Homo sapiens: one gene and its partners. The protein of the gene in region 2 interacts with the protein of the main gene of each other region in a pairwise test. Each region holds a gene or a part of one and is shown on either strand. Other genes may lie near its edges.

Region 1 (5,066 bases), on a different chromosome or scaffold from region 2:
TGATGCGCAGGCAGGATGGGTCAGTGGATCGTGTATCCCCTTTGTTCCCCAGGTGACAGCGGGAAGGTGACCACAGTCGTAGCCACTCTAGGCCAAGGCCCAGAGCGCTCCCAAGAAGTGGCTTACACGGACATCAAAGTGATTGGCAATGGCTCATTTGGGGTCGTGTACCAGGCACGGCTGGCAGAGACCAGGGAACTAGTCGCCATCAAGAAGGTTCTCCAGGACAAGAGGTTCAAGGTAGCTTGGGCGGGATGGGGACAGGGAGGTTTGGGGACTGGGTGTGACTGGTGGGAGAACCTGAGCCAGAGAGCTGGAGGCTTGGGTTTCAGAGCCATGGGCCAGAAGAGAAGGGGGAAAAGAGGAAATGAGACCTGTGAAAGATGGGAAATGTGGATCCCAGGAGAGCCCAGAGCTTTTACTGGGCATTTGCTCAATGTAAGTGCTTAATAAGCAAATTCTTGTTTAATTTACATAAAGATTCTCTGAGGGTAGGTACTGTGGTTATACCCATTCTAAGTGTAAGCTAAGTTTAAAAGCAGGGAAACAAACTCAGGTAAGAGGATTGCCTGAGGTCATAGAGCAAGTGCCCCAGTCAAGGCTGGAATCTGATTCCCAAACCCTCTACCTTAACCATTTGGTTACACTTCTTCCCAGGAGAGAAAGGGACCTGGCAGGGCTAGCGCGGGTGGTTCTGAAGGTCGCGCTCTTCCCAGGTGTTTGGCCAGCGCAGAATGGAATGGAGGTGCCCTGTGAGCTAGGAGAGGCTCAGGGAACTAGAAGGAGATGGAGGAAGTGGAAGTTGAGGAATAATTGGTGTTTAAGGGCCTGGCATTTGGAGCTTAGACTAGTCTGGATGTAGGAGAACTGAGCCTAGACTGGAAAGGAACCAGACCAGGGCCTCGGTCTTGGCAGGGAGGGCCCTTGGGCAGGAGGAGCTCCAGGGTGTCAGAATTTGATTGGAGTTGAGTTCCAGAAGTAAGAGGGATGTAGGGGCAGGGAGTTCCTAGGCCTCACTGAGGAATAGAGAATGGGGAAGAATGCTGAGACCGCATTCTGGGAAAAGTCCAATGCCTGGAGTCTGGGACTCAGGATCCTAGATAGAGTTCGAGGACCCAGATGCTTCCACGGGACCAGAGTGAGCTGGATGGCCACTACCTGTCTGTTGTTGCTTGTGCCAGGTAGGGGGGCAAGCCTCATGTGCCCATGCCTGATTTTTTTTTTTTGAGATGGAGTCTTACTCTGTCACCCAGGCTGGAGTGCAGTGGCACGATCTTGGCCCGCTACAACCTCTGCCTCCCAGGTTCAAGCGATTCTTGTGCCTCAACCACCTGAGTAGCTGGGATTGCAGGCATGGGCCACTATGCCTGGCTAATTTTTTTTTTTTGTATTTTTAGTAGAGACAGGGTTTTGCCATGTTGGCCAGGCTGGTCTCGAACTCCTGACCTCAAGTAATCCGCCCCCACCTCGACCTCCCAAAGTGCTGGTATTACAGGCATGAGCCAGCATACCTAGCCCTGATTTTTCAAGACAAACTGAAAACTGGATTTAGATGTGAAATCTTTTTTTTTTTTTTTTTTTTTTTTTTGAGACGGAGTCTCATGCTGTCACCCAGGCTGGAGTGTGGTGGCGTGATCTCGGGTCACTGCAACCTCCGCCTGCCGGGTTCAAGCGATTCTTCTGCCTCAGCCTCCCTAGTAGCTGGGACTACAGGCGTGTGCCACCACTCTCGGCTAATTTTTTGTATTTCTAGTAGGGACGGGGTTTCACCGAGTTAGCCAGGATGGTCTCTATTTTTTTTTTTTTTTTTTTAAGACAGAATCTCGTTCTGTCACTAAGGCTGGAGTGCAGTGGTGTGATGTCGGCTCACTGCAACCTCTGCCTCCTGGGTTCAAGCGCTGCAACCTCTGCCTCCTGGGTTCAAGCAATTCTTGTACCTCATCCACCTGAGTAGTTGGAATCACAGGCGTGCGCCACCATGCCCAGCTAATTTTTTTGTATTTTTAGTAGAGATGGGGTTTTGCCACGTTGGCCAGGCTGGTCTCGAACTCCTGGCCTCAAGTGATTTCCCTGCCTTGGCCTCCCAAAGTGCTGGGATTACAGGGGTGAGCCACCATGCCCAGCTGTTTTTTATTTTATTTTTATTTTAAGGCTGGGTATGGTAGCTCATGCCTGTAATCCTTGAACTTGGAGAGCCCGAGGCAGGAGGATTGCCTGAGACTAGGAGTTCAAAACCAACCTGGCCAACATAGCCAGGTTCTTTTAAAAATAATAATAATAATAAATTTTATCTTATTTATTTATTTATTATTATTATTTTTTGAGACAGAGTCTGTCGCCCAGGCTGGAGTGCAGTGGCGCGATCTCAGCTCACTGCAAGCTCCGCCTCCTGGGTTCACGCCATTCTCCTGCCTCAGCCTCCCGAGTAGCTGGGACTACAGGTGCCTGCCACCATGCTTGGCTAATTTTTTTTGTATTTTTAGTAGAGACAGGGTTTCACCGTGTTAACCAGGATGGTCTCAATCTCCTGACTTCGTGATCCACCCACCTCAGCCTCCCAAAGTGCTGGGATTACAGGCGTGAGCCACCACGCCTGGCCCTGGCCTATCCTTTTTAAAACTTTATTTTGGAGAAAAAAATCAGAAGGTGCCATTTGGCTTTTACATGTCAGCAATAAGTTGAAAAAAAATTTTTTTTTAAGTGGGGTGGCTGGGCGCGGTGCCTCACGCCTGTAATCCCAGCACTTTGGGAGGCTGAGGCCTGTGGATCATGAGGTCAGGGAGGCTGAGGCAGGTGGATCACAAGGTCAGGAGATCGAGACCATCCTGGCTAACGTGGTGAAACCCCATCTCTACTAAAAATACAAAAATTAGCTGGGCGTGGTGGTGCATGCCTGTAATCCCAGCTACTTGGAAGGCTGAGGCAGGAGAATTGCTTGACCCAGGGAGGCAGAGGTTGCAGTGAGCCGATATTGAGCCACTGCATGCCAGCCTGGCAACAGAGCAAGACTCTGTCTCAAAAAAAAAAAAAAATGGGGTGAAGAAAACACATCTGTGGCCTGGGTTTAACCTGTGGGCTTCCAGCTCCTGTGGGAGGGGAATAGTCTGGAGACAAGGAATTGGGGGATACTCCAGGGGACCTTGGAGCTGGGACACAGGGAGTAGCTGCCTGGCTGTTGTTGGGAGTGAGTGTGAGTAGGGAGGAGCAGCCGAGAGAGTTGGTTGTATTCTGAGACTCTCCCTTTGCCCTCAAGAACCGAGAGCTGCAGATCATGCGTAAGCTGGACCACTGCAATATTGTGAGGCTGAGATACTTTTTCTACTCCAGTGGCGAGAAGGTGAGATCTCGAGGTGGTGGTGGTGGGTTGCTCCAGCCATTTTCCTGCCTGCCTGCCTTTCCCCCACTGCTCCCTGCATACCTTCCTTCCCCCTCCTCACTCTTCTCACAGTGCCTCACACCTCTCCTTTGCTCCCTGCAGAAAGACGAGCTTTACCTAAATCTGGTGCTGGAATATGTGCCCGAGACAGTGTACCGGGTGGCCCGCCACTTCACCAAGGCCAAGTTGACCATCCCTATCCTCTATGTCAAGGTAGGCCAGCAGGTGGGCTGCTGGGACCCAGGCCCACAAAGCCAGGGGCTCTGGAGCCTCCTGCCTTTTATGGGATCCCTCATCCGCCAAGTTTATGTTGGTTTTTGGAGGCCCCATGTCCCCTGCTGTTGTTCCCATAACCCCCCGAGATGGAGCTCGCCTAACACAGGGGAGGGCCAAGGCAGGCAAGGCCTGACTGAATCAGGAAGGCAGCCTGACACCTGGGGTTGCAGAAGCTGCCAGGTAGTTGCTCAGGTCCATACAGGGAGTCCAGTGGCACCAGAGATGTTGGAGTTAGCTCAGGATAAGGGGGTGGTGGGGACCAGGACTGCACAGAGACAGCTGCTGAGGCCAGAGTTCGGGCCTTTAGAGCCTTGGCTGGGGGTAGGTGGGAAGGAGTTAGGGCTGGAGGAAGGTTAGCATCCACAGAGCCAGGAATGCATCTCCGTCCATCATCTGTGCAGGCTCATTCCCCAGTGCCTGGCATCGTGCCCTGGGTGTTACAGACCTTCAGGAGGTGTTTGAATGAATGAATGAATGATTGCAGCCCAGGGATGATGTGGCGAACAGGCTGGAGCAGCCTACTGCATTGGAAGGAGGTGGGTGGGTTTGTTTGCTGAAGGTCACTTGGGGCCCAGCTGCTGCTCCTGCTGGCTTTACGTACCAAGCACGGGTGAGCCGACGTGGGCTCTACCAGTGGTTGTGGCTGTTGGACCTCACTTCCCAGGAGGGGAGCTCTCTGGTTTGGCGAATCTGTCCTGTGGCTGCCTGCATACGGGTCCCAGGGCTGAGGAATTCCAGAGGCACCACTGACTGCGACCCAGGCCTTGGCCTTGAAGAGCTCTCAGTTTGGTAGGGTAGAAAGGCGTCATCACAGAAAACTATTAAATGAACTAGCTGCTGCCATACCAGAAGGAGCACAGGGAATTCTGGAAATGGAGGAAGCACCCAGCCTGGTTTGTGGGTGAGAAGGATCAAGGAAGGCTTCCTGGAGGAGACCAAGCACAGGGCAAGGAAGTGGCATCTTTGGCCGAGGGGAACTGGAATAAAAGGAAGGGGGCCTAGGAAGCAGCCATGTCAGGACCTGGTCTGTCTAGGCCCTGGGGGATGCAGCAGTAACTGAAACTCAAAATCCTGCTCTCACGGTACTTCTGTTCTAGTCAGTGGGAGGGAGAGTGGCAGGAAAATGGAGCTGGAGAGGGGGCAGGCTCAGGGGTGGTTTTGATTGTCGGATTAAGGAGCCAGTGGTTTTGGTGAGGGGGAAGCTGAGTGCCTGGCTCCCTAGCCTGTTTTATGACAACCTCCCGATGTACCTTACTCATCAGGCTTCTGCCAAGGGTTGTGATTAAAGCAGTGGTTCTCAGAGTGTGGTCCGGGGACCAGCATCAGTGCTGGAGAGCTTGTTGCAAATGCCTCATTCAGAACTCACTGATCAGAAACTCTAAGAGTGGGGCCCAGCAGTCCCTTTTTTTTTGTT
Region 2 (5,066 bases):
CTACACGTACTCGAAAGCAAATCAGAGGTAAAAAGTGGACAGGTGAAGAGCATCATTCCGGTGGGGCAGCTGCCCTCAGCTTTTGTGCTGGCGGCAAGCTCACAACATTCCACATGGCACTCGAGAGGCTGTGGGCTGTGGACACAGATGTGGGGTCAGTGTCTAATCCACGGAGGCCTGTGGAGGTTACCCAATCCAAGTATCATGTCTAAGAAACCAGTAGGTTGGTGGCTTCAGGACACTTCAACAAACCCCGAGGCAAGTGTTAGGTGAGTTTTAGATTCACTTGTTCCTGACGCCCACCGTGGCTGAGCCAGACCTGGACTCGGCTCACCATTGCCCACAACACTCAGTGGTGCTGTGACAGCCGAGGATGCCTCAGGAGTTGCCGTGTCTGCCACGCAGCCCTGGGTCGGGCGCTCTCTTCAGTCGTCCTGTGTCTCCTGGCAGCTCTGAGAGGCCCCTGGGTGCGGCACGGATCCCTGGAGCTGCCGTGCTTCCGAAGGCAGCTTTTCTTTCTTTCTTCCTTTTCTTTTTTGAGACGTAGTCTTGCTCTGTTGCCCAGACTGGAGTGCAGTGGCACAATCTCGCCTCACTGCAACCTCCGCCTCCCGGGTTCACGCCATTCTCCTGCCTCAGCCTCCCGAGTAGCTGGGACTACAGGCACTCGCCACCACACCTGGCTAATTTTTTGTATTTTTAGTAGAGACGGGGTTTCACCGTGTTAGCCAGGATGGTCTCGATCTCCTGACCTCGTGATCCGCCCGCCTCGGCCTCCCACAGTGCTGGGATGACAGGCATGAGCCACTGCGCCCAGCCCGAAGGCAGCTTTTCTAATAGCTGGGAGAGGGCGAGGGCTTTCATGAAGGATGGTTGTGCGTGAGTTATCTTAACCCTGGGGTAATTATTCAGACCATGTATAATCTGACTTTCGTGTTTTAATGATCTTCTAAAGGGTTCATAAAGAAAACCTGTTGCGGGCTGGGCGCGGTGGCGCATGCCTGTAATCCCAGCAGTTTGGGAGGCCGAGGCAGGCGGATCACGGGGTCAGGAGATTGAGACCATCGTGGTTAACACAGTGAAACCCCGTCTCTACTAAATAATACAAAAAATTAGCCGGGCGTGGTGGCGGGCACCTGTAGTCCCAGCTACTCGGGAGGCTGAGGCAGGAGAATGGCGTGAACCCGGGAGCGGCTTGCAGTGATCCGAGATCGCGCCACTACACTCCAGCCTGGGCGACAGAGCAAGACTCCGTCTCAAAAAGAAAAAAATAAAAGAAAACCTGTTGCTAAAGAGCTACCTTGTGCCTCCCTCAGAGACCACACTGCCCTGCCAGCTCCTGGAGAGAAGCAGAGTGTGCAGCCTTGGCATCTCCTATCTTTCCGTGGGGCACTGGTTGTCCTGGCTGCCCACTGTGCAATCCTGAAATGTTTTTGGTCCATTTAGCAATGCCCTCCAAGGCAGGCACACTGCACAGTGGTCTAGGCCACAAGCAGGGGCCAGCAAACGTTTCCCGTGCAGGGCTGGCAGTGAATATGTGAGGCTTTGCAGCCGCATGCAGTCCCTGTCACAGATTCTTCCCCCACCCTTTAAAAATGTAGAAACCTTGGCCGGGCGCCGTGGCTTGCGCCTGTAATTACTCCCAGCACTTTGCGAGGCCGAGGCGGGCGGATCACGAGGTCAGGAGATCGAGACTCTCCTGGCTAACACAGTGAAACCCCGTGTCTACTAAAAATACAAAAAAATTAGCTGGGCGTGGTGGCGGGCACCTGTAGTCCCAGCTACTCAGGAGGCTGAGGCAGGAGAATAGCGTGAACCCGGGAGGTGGAGCTTGCAGTGAGCCGAGATTGTGCCACTGCACTCCAGCCTGGGCGACAGAGCGAGACTCCATCTCAAAAAAAAGAAGAAAAAAAAATGTAGAAACCACTCTTAGCTGTCAGGCCCTAAAGAACAGGCAGGCACAAGGAGGCTTTGTGGAGGTGCCCAGTAAATACCAGCTAGGAAGACGCGTGGCTGGGCACCTGGGCTTTACCATCACGTGTGAACCTTTGTGTGTACATGTTCCCCTGTGCACACATGGGTGCCTGCATCACCTGTGTGCACGTGTCTCAGTGGTGGTGGCTCACAGGTGTCCTCATCATTGCCTGCTGACCGGCGGTCGGGGCCAGGAGCTCTATTGGCACGGTGCTGGCCCTCCTGCTCCTCTCTGAGTTAACGGCTGCCTCTTTCTCCTGGACAGGGATGGGATCCCCCCATACAGGATCCGTAAGCAGCACCGCAGGGAGATGCAGGAGAGCGTGCAGGTCAATGGGCGGGTGCCCCTACCTCACATTCCCGTAAGTACCGGCTTTGCGGTCCTCAGCCCATCGTCCTCCCCGCTCAGCGTGGGCCTGGTGAACTGGTCCGCGGGAAAGGCACTTGCCTGGCCTCCCACGAGCCAGGCTTACCTCTAGGCGTAAGCGTGTGATCCCAGCAACATCTGCAAGTGGCCAGTCCCTGAGGGCAGCAGGGGACATCAAGTCTCAGGCAGCATTTAGGGCCCAGAGGGAGCTGTTCATTCAGAAGAGCCCCCATGCCCCAAGGCCACACCCTCCCTGGTGGCAGGAAGTGTCTTGCCTTGTGAAGGTGGATGCTTCCCCTCAAGAGGGGGAGCTCTGAGCCTTTCTCAAGACTCAGAGCCCAGGCCTGGCCCCTGCACAGCCCTTGGGGAAAACTTGGTGTTTTTGTGGCTGAACAGTGGTCGTCTCCAGGTAAACGTCTTGACTTTAAAGCTGCCTTGGCTTTCGCTGTTGCATAGAATAATGGCACCTTTGCCCAGTCTCGGGCATGGGGGCTTGGCTGGGCAGTAGGTCATGGAGCTGAGTGCTAGCTGGAGCCCAGCACAGCCTGACTCCGTCTACAGAGCATTCCTGCGCTGATGAACAGATTAATGATCTTTCCTTATTTTGATGGGTTGACTTTGAACAGGAAAGATGTTACGGGAAGATGAGAAAAGTGTTTTCTTTTTTTTTTTTTGAGATAGGAGTTTTGCTGTCACTGCAAGCTCTGCCTCCCGGGTTCACGTCATTCTCCTGCCTCAGCCTCCCGAGTAGCTGGGAGTACAGGCGCCTGCCACCACGCCCGGCTAATTTTTTGTATTTTTAGTAGAGATGGGGTTTCACCGTATTAGCCAGGATGGTCTCGATCTCCTGACCTCGTGATCCGCCCGTTTCAGCCTCCCAAAGTGCTGGGATTACAGGTGTGAGCCACTGCGCAACGCACTGTTAGCCGCGGTGTCTGAGGTTAAACCACGTGACCATCTGAGTGTCTGTGCAGGGAAGTAGGCATTTTGAGAGCACTGACACAGTCTTGGTCAGGATTTCTTAGCCTTTTAGCTTTTCTGCAGACATCAGTTTCCAAGTCAGGAATTTCTTTATGGTTGAAAAGAAAGGATGTTGGTTTGTTATCACTTCTGAGAAGATGCCAGCCAACCCTTGACTCAGGTTTGGCTAAAACTAGGCACTGATGGTGTCTACTTAACAAAAAGTGGCTGACACTGTAGGCTGTGTGTGGGTGCGTGCGTGTGTGCGTGCTTGTGCTGTGGAAGATCTGGGGCCCTGCCTGCCAGGCATGGCCCAAGGCTATCATGAGGTCACAGCCCAAGTCGAGGGCACCTGCACAGCCACCGGCCTCTGATTTTCAAGTCACAGGTCCTGAACGTCAAGAACCCGCGGAGCCGCTGGGATGACGGAGGCCCGAGAGACAAGACAGCTGAGCAACCACAGGCCCGGAACAGCCCTCTGTGCCCATGAGGACGGGGCTTGAGTGGGCTGAGGCCCGCGGGAGGCTTCTGTCCACAGGGGTGCCCCGATTTTGGGGTGCTGGTCAGAGTCTTCGTGTGTAGAAAGTGCATGCCACAGACTCTGGATGAGGGGGCATCAGGCAGACAACCTCCCCTCAGAAGGGTCAGGAAGGACAGAAGCTGTGGAGTGCGTTGGTGCCTGGAACGTGGACCTGGAAAGACCTCTCAGGATGCAACACAGAGAAAAGAGGATGCCTATGGCGAGTCCCTGGTGTCGTCGTCAGAACCTTCCAGAACCGAGGGAAGCACAGAGCCCTCAGGTCCTGGAGGGTCACATTTGAGTCGCCAGGAAGATGAAAGCCAACAGAGGCGGCAGGCACAGACAGGAGCAGGCCCTGCTGCGTTCCGCACCCCCAGAGGGCCCTTGTGTGGTGGGGTGGGGGCCGCAGTGTGCGTTTCTGTGTGAACAGTCTGCAGCAAACAACCTCATCGGAGGCTCTGTAGGAACCTGCATCAGGTCCATGTGGCCTGTCAGGTGGGGCTGTGGTTGGAACCTTCGGTGGGAGGTCCCTCAGCCAGAGGCCCAAGTGAGAAACCCACATCACGGGCACAGCTGCCCGGGGCCTGCTCACTGCTGCTACTGGGAAACTGGACCCGAGGATGGTGGTGAGCAGAGGCGGGGGGAGGCCCAGGAAGCCGATAAGCTAGCAGGACGTGCCGTGGTTGCACTGCCCACTTCTGCTCTGTTGAGGGCCTTGGTTTTGCAAAAGCTATGCCGTTTCTCTGGTGAGTCCATGGCTCTGCAGCAGGGACAGCAGGAGGGGAGTAGCTTAGACGCTCATAGGAGCAGAACCCTGTTGTGGCTGCACCCACGGAGGCCCAGGCTGTGTGCACCTTGTGAGACTCTTTAACACCTGCCCATCAGAGTTGGAGCAGGTTCATCCCGAAAAGCCCCCTGCCCCCACTGTCCATGGAAAAATTGTCTTCTACAAAACTGGTCCCTGGTGCCAAAAGGTTGGGGGCCGTGGCTTTACAGCATCTGGTACCAGAATGCGTGCCCTGCGGGGAGGGGCCTCTTCATCTTTAGCCTTTACAATTACTTGGAAGTTTCACGTTTTCATTTACTTGGCTTTTTCCTTTATGATATTTTTTTCTGTTCCTCTAAAGCTGGAGAGGTTGCCATTCTCTGTAAATCTGATGACTCTGACAGTTTTGCTGTTCTCAGAACCGTGGTGACGCAGCCTGCAAGGCCACCTGGAGTCTTTTTATGGAGCTCGCGTGGCGG
Region 3 (5,066 bases), on a different chromosome or scaffold from region 2:
AATGGCATGAACCAGGGGGCGGAGCTTGCAATGAGTGGAGATCGCGCCACTGCACTCCAGCCTGGGCGACAGAGCGAGACTCCGCCTCAAAAAAAAAAAATCATATTAAATTATTAAAATACCATGCCAAACAATGACCCACCATGTGTTCTTTGAGTGGAAACGTGTTGTAGAAAATCACACCTTGCTCTTGCAGACAGGCAATTTGAAAATCTAAAGGTTAAAGTACAAACTTCAGCAAGTGTAGTAAGACAGAAAGAGTCAGAGCTTTGAGGACACCTAAACCCAAGCTTAAAGCTTGGTTCTACCATTTACTAGCTGTATGACCTGAGTAACTGGCAGTTTATGCTTACGAGCTCCATTTCACTAGCTGTAAAATGCAGGTGAAGCATTGTGCCAATTAAGTAATATATGTAAAGTGCATACAAGGGTAACTGGCATGTAGCACTCGCTCTCAATAAGCAGTTGCTACAGTTAGTAAACCTCCCCAAGACGACCTGCCAAGAGACCTCAGAATAAAATATCACCACTTTACATGAAACCGCAAAAAATATTTTGACCAGGTATTAACTATTATATAAATCATGTGAGAATGCCTCAAAGTTACCATTTGTTTTCCATATTTTACAAGCTATTCCCTAAACAACATATGTCTCTGTTTACTGTATTTCCTATTAGACTATGAATAAAAACTATTTGGGCTTACAATAAAAATAACTGAGTTAGGCGTGGTGGCTCATGTCTGTAATCCCAACACTCTGGGAGGCCAAGGCAGGCAAATCATTCGAGCCCAGGAGTTCAAGACCAGTCTGGGCAACATGGTGAGACCCTGTCTCTACAAAAAAGAAATTAGCTGAGCATAGTGACATGTGCCTGTGGTCCCAGCTACCTGAGAGGCTAAGGCAGGAAGATCGTGTGAGGCCAAGAGGTCAAGGCTGCAGTAAGCCATGTTTGTGCCACTGCAGTCCAGCCTGGGCGACCTGATGTCTCAAAGATAATAATAACTGCACTTCTTACAGTAAAACAAAGTTTTTACCAGGAATTCAGACACATAGACCTTCACTGATCCACACTCAAACATGGCCAAACATGACACTACGCACAAACGTCTAATATTTCTCCCTTTCCCTATTAATGGACAAAATAAATAAGGGAAAATATTTTTCAAAATTTCTTTCAGCGAGTTGAGTTCCACAAAACAAAACAATACAGGGTAATTGCTTACCTGGAAAATATTTTGTACTTCAGATCCACCAATCCAGAATGAATGGGGGTTTTCCCTTTCAGACTAGTCTGAGAAAAGACAGCAGTCAAGCATCTTCCAAGATTCTTTCCGTTTACTGTATCCAGCTTTCTTCAACAAAATCCCAAACATGCACTTCGGTAACTGTTGAAAGACAGAAAGCAATCCATACACCCACCATGGCACCAGCGGCAAAGGACAGCCTCCAAGAAATGGAAGGAAGGGTCAATGGAATGGTGGATCTGAGGCACAGGAAAAAAGTTATAACCCCTGAGTCAGCTATTTGGCATAAAATGCCTGCAGCAGCATTCCTCACCTCTGTGTTGAAAGGATACAAAACTCGTAACAAATAATGGAACATCCCTAATGTTAATATTTACTCATGATAAACAGCATGCAACTTCCAAATGAGAGCAGCTAAAAAATACCTACCCTATCATCCATATAAATTGTCCTAGACCATTCAGCTACACTGAACTTCCTTATCCATTTTCTAAGACAGCTCCTCCACCATTAGAAAAATAGTTTGTCAGCCAAAAAGAATGATACGAGAGGGCTCAAATATCTACCATAAAGATATTTATTTACGTACCTAACAAAATGTTTTGGTTTGCTACATATAAGACATCATATCTACATATTACCCAAATCCTCTACCCTTAGCTAAAATATAGTGTGCTTCAAAACATATAACTGAAGACTGAACTTCTGACTCAGTAAAGGCCAGTCCCGTACAATGGCCAATGATCACGTAAACTGGGAAAAATCATAAAGAACGCTAATATACAATTTACTAGGTGACACCATTAAATATTAAGTCCTGTCCATATTATATCAATATTCTTTTTCTACCATATCAAATTAGACTGCAAATTCTAAACAAACTAAAAGGGAAAGAGAAAAAGCATTCAGCAGAACAACAAAGATAAAAACAAAAAGACTGAACTTACTCGAACATAAATTTGCTACTTCCACAATTGCTACATTATAGCCAAAATGCTCCTGCAGTAATTATAGTAATACCTACCTTATTGAAAAGCTACTAACTGGCCAAGCCCTTTACATTAATTACCCATATTTAATTCTCAAAAAAAGATGAGCAGAAAGAAGTAACCTATCCAAAGTCCCACATCTACTAGGTAGTAGAGCCCATGCCCTTTTCATGGAGCACTATGGACTCCACAGTTCAAGGGTCAGAAAGCCCATGATTTCTGAGAGAGGAGAAGAAATCAAGCTTTACTCTCAAAGGTCCTAAATTAATTAACATCAAAATGGAGAACAATGAAAATACAGAAGAGTAAATATTTCAGCCTACATGAATCAGTTGGGCCATCCTGAAAGGGTAATTCCCTAGATCTTGCCACTTAAAAAAGCATTTAATTAACAAAGAGCCATGCAATTCTACAGCCCATGATATTTTTTTCTTGTCTTTTTTTTTTTTTTTTTAAGTAGAGACAGGGTTTCACCATGTTGCCCAGGCTGGCCTCGAACTCCTAAGCTCAAGCGATCTGCCTACCTTGGCCTCCCAAAGGGCTGGGATTACAGGTGTGAGCCCCCATGCCCAGCCTAAAGCCCACAATATTAATGCTAAAACAAAACACATTATAGGCTGGGCTCGATGGCTCACACCTGTAGTCCCAACATTTTGGGAGGCCGAGGCGGGCAGATCACTTGAGGTCAGGAGTGTGAGGCCAGCCTGACCAACATGGTGAAACCCCATCTCTACTAAAAGTACAAAAATTAACCGGGCCTGGTGGCACATGCCTACAATCCCAGCTACTCGGGAGGCTGAGGAAGGAGAATCACTTGAACCCGGGAGACAGAGGCTGCAGTGAGCTGAGATCGTGCCACTGTACTCCAGCCTGGTTAACAGAGCAAGACTCCGTCTCAAAAAAAAAAAAAAAAAAAAGACTGTGGCAAGACATACTATAATGGTACTCAAGTAGTCTTTGTGTTTAGCAGCAAAGATTGTAACTGTGACAAAGAATCTCAAATCCAGCTGAACCCAAGTAATTTTTAAATTCTAAGATTTGTTGACAGTCCACAGGCAATGACTCTTAAAGATGTTCTGATTGTTCATATTGTAGGTAAGGCAATTAAAGTGACTGAAATACCGGTCTATGATTAACCTCGCCATAACAATCAGATGAAAATACCTTAAGACTCACAACTTTAAGGAGATCACAAAAGTAAAATCCCAAGCAAATAATGAGTTCTCAAGTTTTTCCCATTAAGTGGTATTACTCCTAAGCCTAAGAATAAACTGGAAACCCAATTTTGACAGAAGTAGCTAGGGAACTATGGCTAGTAGCGAACTGCTAAAACAGTATACTATGCTTTTCAAGGTACGACTATCCAAAATGCAAAACAAGTTATAGCAAAACACAACCACAGCAATTTGACTAACAGACTCATTTCTGGACCTCTTGAATCCTCAGGCTTTTCCCCTGTACTAGTGAGTTAATTTTTCTCCCTTCCCTTCAAAAAAAAAAAATATATATATATATACACACACATATATATTTCTTCAATCCCTAATTGTATATATATATTTCTTCAATCCCTAATTGCTGGCAGGCCTTATGCTAGTAATACAAAGATTAACAGATGCCAGGTGAGTAGTGTCAGGACTGAGTTCTTCCTGCCCCTCTGCCCCCTTTCTCTTTGAATCTATCATGTAGTCATTTCAGAGGGCCAAAATATATTTTATTGTTAGTTACCAAAACTGGTTCAATGTTCTCCAGTTAACTCCTAAAAAAATAAACATTAAAAATTACTCAAGTTCCTTTTTCACAATAGTAGAACCTCAGTCTTTCTTTTTCTTCTGTGGATCAGAGGCTTTTTACTATACAATGGTTTCCTACATTCAATATGCTTATATTTACACACCTCTCTATCACAAGCCAAAGAGCCAAAGCTTTTTTTTTTATTTTTCCTATTAATGTCCCAGTGTTTATACTTCACAGCTTTCCATTTTGTGAAGCTCTTCATTGTTAACTCAACCTGAGAGGGAATTTCCTAAAAACGCTTCCCGCTGACATCACAGAACTCTTCCATCTTTTAGTTTCATTAAAACACTAAGAACCAGGTAAGAGATACCCTACTGGATTGTCAGGTCTTCCTGGTCTGTCTCTCATTTGCCTACAAAGACAAACTTCCTCTTAAGCAATTGCGATCAGCAGAAACTAACCAAGGGTAACGAGCACATTCTTAACCAACACGTTTCTTCCCCCATTGTCATCTAATTCAATGAACAATACAACTCAGAAGAAAATCTTGTATGAATTCTCACTGCTTATTCTGTTAAGGTTAAAACCATCAGCTTTGATGATGGTAAGAATAAGAATTCAAAAACCACAATTTGGTCAGTCTAAACTAAACCGATCAAACATAAATCCCAATGCTCAATGTCAATATAAACTAATCACCAGTCTCTTTCTGTCAGGATACCAGGCATAAAAATAGGACTGGGTGGGTTCTCTCTGTAGTTACAGCATAGATCTAATTACGCCAAATTGGTAGTCATTGAAATAGTACCTCCCAGATTTTCCAAGACAGTATTGACTCTGCATGATTTCATTGTTTTTCCCAAAGATGGCTCATTAAATGTATGGCTAAAAGCAACTAAATGTTAGTCTTCTGTAAAGCCTCACAAATAAATACATGCGCAACTCAGGAGAAAGACCTTTTCCACACCATCGGTCTTGACTTCGCTTTAGGGTCCCTGTACTTGTGGGGAAAGTTAGTATGGTCAGCATTTGAAGAAAAGCAAGCCTCTGCAAAGTCCTTTCACACACATCTCTCATATAATCCTCCCAACAAC
Region 4 (4,809 bases), on a different chromosome or scaffold from region 2:
CTTCCCTTTCCATCGACGCTGCTTGCCTTGGAGTGAACCCCTTCTGTAGAGCCAGGACTTGGCCTCATTTAATCCTCTGAGGTCTGATGAGCCCTCTTGAGCAAAGTCATTCACCAAGGCTCAGGGCAGTAACATTCCCTGGCAAGTGGCACAGCTGGGCTCCAGTCCTCGCTGCCAGGGGCCCAGCCAGGGTGGGCAGCAGGGGCTCAGAGATGAGGTGTTGCTGCTCCCTGACATCAGGGAGCCCCCAGGAGCCCCTGTGAGCATTGGCAAGAGCATGGGGTGTAGGGGCAGTGAGGTCCCATCCTCTTTGGGGCTATGTTTGGATGGGGACACTTGGGAAGGGGGAATCTGTAGTTGCCCAGGGCAGGTGGCCTGGCAGAGGTGGGTGGGAGCCCTGCCCTCGTCCTCCTGCCTGTGGGCGAGGAGGGAGTCCTGCGAGAGAACCCTCATTGGCCATCTACTTAGGTAGCAGGTTTGCCTCCCTGGGCAACATTCTTAGCTACAGACAGGGACATCTTAGAGTCACTGGAATCACACAGGCCTTCCCTCAGCTTGAGGGGCTGCCTGGAGGTGGGGGTGGGGGTACACCTCCTCAGTGGGGAGAGACTTGCCAAATCTCTATCGCCAGCGGCTAAGGGACTTGACTTGAAGCTTGTACCTCCCTCTCTCTCCCTCCCCCTCTCTCCCTCCCCACCCTCAAAAGACAAGTGTGCCATTTGACCATCTCGGGAAGTGAGGAGAGCCCCCATTGGACCAGTGTTTGCTTAGGTGAGTCCATGACTGCTGCAGATGCAGCCAGCCCAGCCGACCTAGAAGCTCCCAGGGCCCCAGAAAGAGACCAATGTGTTGTGGAGGGGTGGGTGGCAGTGGCAGTGGCAGATGGTACCAGGCGCCCCAGAACTCTAAGGGGCCTCAAGTAGTTTAAAACCTCGGAGGCTGCCTGACTTGGGGCCAAGGGTTTCTATGCTCAGGCCTGACCCCTCATGGATTAGTTTCTGCTGGAAAAACTTTTTCTGCCCTCGGCCAGGTCTCTATCTCCTTCTGCCTTAACATATTTTGGAAGGTTGGTTCCCAGCAGAGACGGGGCCATGGGCTCACACTCTGACCTCTCCCACGGCATTAGCCCTGTCTCAGCCTCTGGGCTGTTACGCAAGTTAATTCCTGCACAAGACTCACAACAGGGCTGTGGAGGAAGCAAAGGAGCCCTTTTTATGCCTCTGTAGTAGGACTGAGAGAGGCCCTCTGGCCAGCGTGAGCCTGCTGGTTCTTCCCGGACTGTACCAGGCCTTGAGGCGGGGTATGGAAACGCCCCACTCTGGGGCCTGGCTTGGGGAAGGGGAGGCGGCAGGGGTTCTTTGGGCTTCTCGAGGGTATAATCTGAGCTCTCTGGGGAACGTGTGTCCATTTGTAGGCAGTAGTCCGACACGTCGGGGGACTCAACTTTACACTGGGACAATCTGTGTGTGGTCTGTTTTGTAGAAATTCATCCACACAAGAGAGTGGAGGCATGAACAGGGCTGGCCTTCCTCGGATCTCAGGCCCAGGAACCAAGCTGTCCATGGCGGGCTGGGCAGATATTTGGGGGTGGGGTGGGGAGATGCTCACCAGGAGGGCAGAGAAGGGAGAGAATCCGTTTCTGTCACATGAAGATGGATCTCCTAGCGTGCTGGGCCTTGAGCCAGGCTCTGGGGCCCAGAGGGAGATAGACCAAGGGACGAGAAGACAGGAGTTTGGGGGGCCAAGTGCAGTGGCTCGCACCTGTAATCCCAGCACTTCGGGAGGCCCAGACAGGTGGGTCACTTGAGGTCAGGAGTTCGAGACCAGCCTGGCCAACATGGTGAAAACCCATCTCTACTAAAAACACAAAAATTAGCCGGGTGTGGTGGCACACACCTGTAATCTCAGCTACTCGGGACGCTGAGACAGGAGAATTGCTTGAATCTGGGAGGTGGAGGTTGCAGTGAGCCGAGATCGTGCCACTGCACTCCAGCCTGGGGGACAGAGCGAGACTCCATCTCAAAAAAAAAAAAAAGTAGCCAGAGACAGCTGTGTACCTCACCTGTCTTTTCCCTTCTCCCTTCTAGTGTCTTCACTGTATTTTCTTTAAAAAAAAAAAAAAAAAAAAAAAGGCAAAAATAAACCACTCAAAAGAACAACAAAAAAACCCAGCACAAAACCGACGATGGAGTTTGTTTCTTTGATTTCTTTGCCAATGGCAAGAAGATGAGATGCCCTCAGCACTGAGGATTCTTGCCCCCTTGTGGTGCCCGCTGCCCCCAACCTTCAGGCTGCCAGATGCTCCCCTGACAACACCAGGCTACAGGAGCCAGACGCCAGGGCCTGCCCGGCCTCCTGTTCCTGCCCCCACCCACCACCTGCCTGGAGAGGAACGGGTCGGGTCCGTGTCGGAGAAGTGACAGGTCCCAGAGCCAAAGCCGGCCCTCAAGCATCATCAGGGAGTGGTGTAGTCAGTTGAAGGCAGTTCCCACCGAGTTTTCCGAGCCTCAGAATCCAGGAGATACGCACAGCCCCACCCACTCTGAGATGACAGTGGCTGACTTCCCGTGCTGGGCTTTTCCATTGTCCCCCTGGCCTCCAGGCTCCTCCTCTGCCTCTCCATGGAGTGGGTGGGGAGGTGGTGGGGGCCGGCGTCCCCTGCGTGTGTGTGTGTGTGTGTGTGTGTGGATGTATTGACCTGTGTTTCCCAAGACAGCAGGTGCCACGGCCCGCCCCGCCTGCCAGCCCGAATTCCCGTTCTCCTGTGTCTACTAACAAGGACATGGGGGTGGGCGGTGACCTCCGCATCCCTCAGAGCTCAGAGGGTCCTCGCTGCCACCGGTCCCCCCCTAGCCCGTCATCAGCCGGTGGCAGCTCCATCTTCCATTCCTGGTTTTAGGGCAGAATCCATGGAGACTGCTTCCAGAAGGCATCTGGCTCTGAGTTATAAATTACTTCCCTGGTCCTGACAGTCACCTGGGGTCCCCCCTCTCCCTGGTTCCACCTTTCTGAGGAGGAGCCTGGAGTCAGGGCTGGGTTTTGGATTAACCCATCCTTCCTAGTTAACACCTTTTTGTTTTTATTTTATTTTATTTTTGTTTGTTTTCTCCGTGTGTGTGTTTTCCTAATTTATTTACCTCTGTTTCCCCTTTTTCCTTTTTTTTTTTAATTAAAGAGCAAAGCTTTTTATTACTTTGTAATTTAAAAAACTGAAAAAAAAAAAACTGAAGAACTTTGGGGGGAATTTTGTACTTTTTTCCTGTGTAAATATTGGACTTTTTTGAGCTTTATCGTGGTTGTTAATTTGAAGTAATAAAGTAGAAAAGATAAAGTGATGCAGGCAGCCCTTTGTCCACCTCTGTGCCCTTAGGGCCTCTCCCTGCAGACCCGGAAGTGGGTCTTGCTGGGAGCAGCAGGAGTCAGTGAGGAACAAGCCCTCGCCCTGAAGGCAGGTGTGGCTGGGGCCACTTTCAGAACACTTGGGCTGTGGTTGGGATGTCCGGGGGCTTTGAAAACACGAGTGCACACAGGTGCCACGCCACAGGTGCCACGCGGGGGTCTTGTAAAGAGGGCTGGGGTGGGGCTGAGAGCTTCCCCCTGCACACTCCAGGTGTGCTGATGGCCTGGGGCCCCTCTTTGAGAAGCAAGGCCCTAAAAGCTCTTCACACATGATTTTATCCACACAAGTATCCTGAGTTAGGTCCTGTTAATAGCCCTGCCTTCGGACAAGAAACTGGTCCTGCTGTAAAATATCTTGCCCACAGTCACAGCTCTGGTGGCAGAGGCAAGACGAGCCGAGGTCATCTCGCTGTGGGGGTTGTGGGGGTGCTCTGACCCTCTCCACTGCTGACCCTGGGGCTCCATGAAGGAGAGTGCTGGAGCGAGCTCTGATAGTGACTCTGGATGAGGTCCTTCAGTCAAGCCTTGATAAAAGGGCAGCGCTCAGCCTCGCCTGCCTTGGTCTCACCAGCTTGGAAAAGAATCTGTCCATCTGCATTTACCCAACACAGTTTACTTCCTTTCGTCAACCGAAGAGCCATTATTGCCACAGTCTCAACCCAGAGGCAAGACGGAAGCTGTCTGGCTGATAGGTCTGCCTGGGAAGCGGATGGAGGGCCCTGGGAGGTTCCCCTCGGGCGTTTTGAAATCCTGGACATAGGTCAAGGCGCCTTCCAGTGCTGGCCGTCAAGACCCAGTGACCCACAGGCTCACGGCCTGGTGGAGGGTTTCCTGCTGTGTGAGGCCCAAGTAAAGGTGGGTCCCCTTTACAGGCATCAGGTATCAGGTGTGTTACCAAAGCCAGGAAATGCCAGTAGGCCCTGGAATGGCAGGTGCTAAGCAGAGCCTGGGCCTTGGGGCTGGGTGGCAGCCAGGAGTCAGTGGTCAATTGGTCAGCCTGCGAAGAGCCATTTTGTTCACCCGCACTTGGTTGAATGAGGTGCTGGGGGAATGCAGCAGAGAGTTCCCCTGCCTCCCTGGACTTTAGGACCTTCTGGGATGGACAACCTGACACCAGACAGCGAGTGGAAGTTACCAACTAGAGGCCCTGAGAGAAAATAATAAGGAGCTGGTCTTTGTCTTTTACAGTGAAAAGTATAGTTTTGTTTTTTTTTTTGTTTTGTTTTGTTTTTGAGACAGGATCTTGCTCTGTCACCCAGGCTGGACTGCAGTGGTGAAGTCATGGCTCACTGCAGCCTCAACTTCCCAGGCTCAAGGGATCCTCCTGCCTCAGCCTCCCTAACAGCTGGGACCACAGGTGCGTGCCACCATGCCTGGCTAACTTTTGTATTTTTTGTAGAGATTAGATCT

The links.
Region 1: the proteins of AXIN1 (region 2) and GSK3A interact in binary tests that used the Homo sapiens proteins (3 or more experiments, as listed by UniProt).
Region 3: the proteins of AXIN1 (region 2) and FBXW11 interact in binary tests that used the Homo sapiens proteins (3 or more experiments, as listed by UniProt).
Region 4: the proteins of AXIN1 (region 2) and CSNK1E interact in binary tests that used the Homo sapiens proteins (3 or more experiments, as listed by UniProt).

The regions. Positions count from the first base shown.
Region 1 is NC_000019.10:42,235,129-42,240,194, reverse strand, and holds part of GSK3A (glycogen synthase kinase-3 alpha), read left to right. Parts: intron 1-52; coding exon 53-240; intron 241-3,253; coding exon 3,254-3,337; intron 3,338-3,478; coding exon 3,479-3,589; intron 3,590-5,066. UniProt on the Homo sapiens protein: Constitutively active protein kinase that acts as a negative regulator in the hormonal control of glucose homeostasis, Wnt signaling and regulation of transcription factors and microtubules, by phosphorylating and inactivating glycogen synthase (GYS1 or GYS2), CTNNB1/beta-catenin, APC and AXIN1.
Region 2 is NC_000016.10:307,243-312,308, reverse strand, and holds part of AXIN1 (axin-1), read left to right. Parts: intron 1-2,239; coding exon 2,240-2,336; intron 2,337-3,683; exon of another isoform or gene 3,684-5,066. UniProt on the Homo sapiens protein: Component of the beta-catenin destruction complex required for regulating CTNNB1 levels through phosphorylation and ubiquitination, and modulating Wnt-signaling.
Region 3 is NC_000005.10:171,995,665-172,000,730, forward strand, and holds part of FBXW11 (F-box/WD repeat-containing protein 11), read right to left. Parts: intron 1,388-5,066; exon of another isoform or gene 1,226-1,387; intron 1-1,225.
Region 4 is NC_000022.11:38,289,217-38,294,025, reverse strand, and holds the end of CSNK1E (casein kinase I), read left to right. Parts: intron 1-706; coding exon 707-739; 3' UTR 740-771; intron 772-2,087; 3' UTR 2,088-3,335; downstream 3,336-4,809. Other genes in the region: TPTEP2-CSNK1E (casein kinase I), read left to right, coding at 707-739.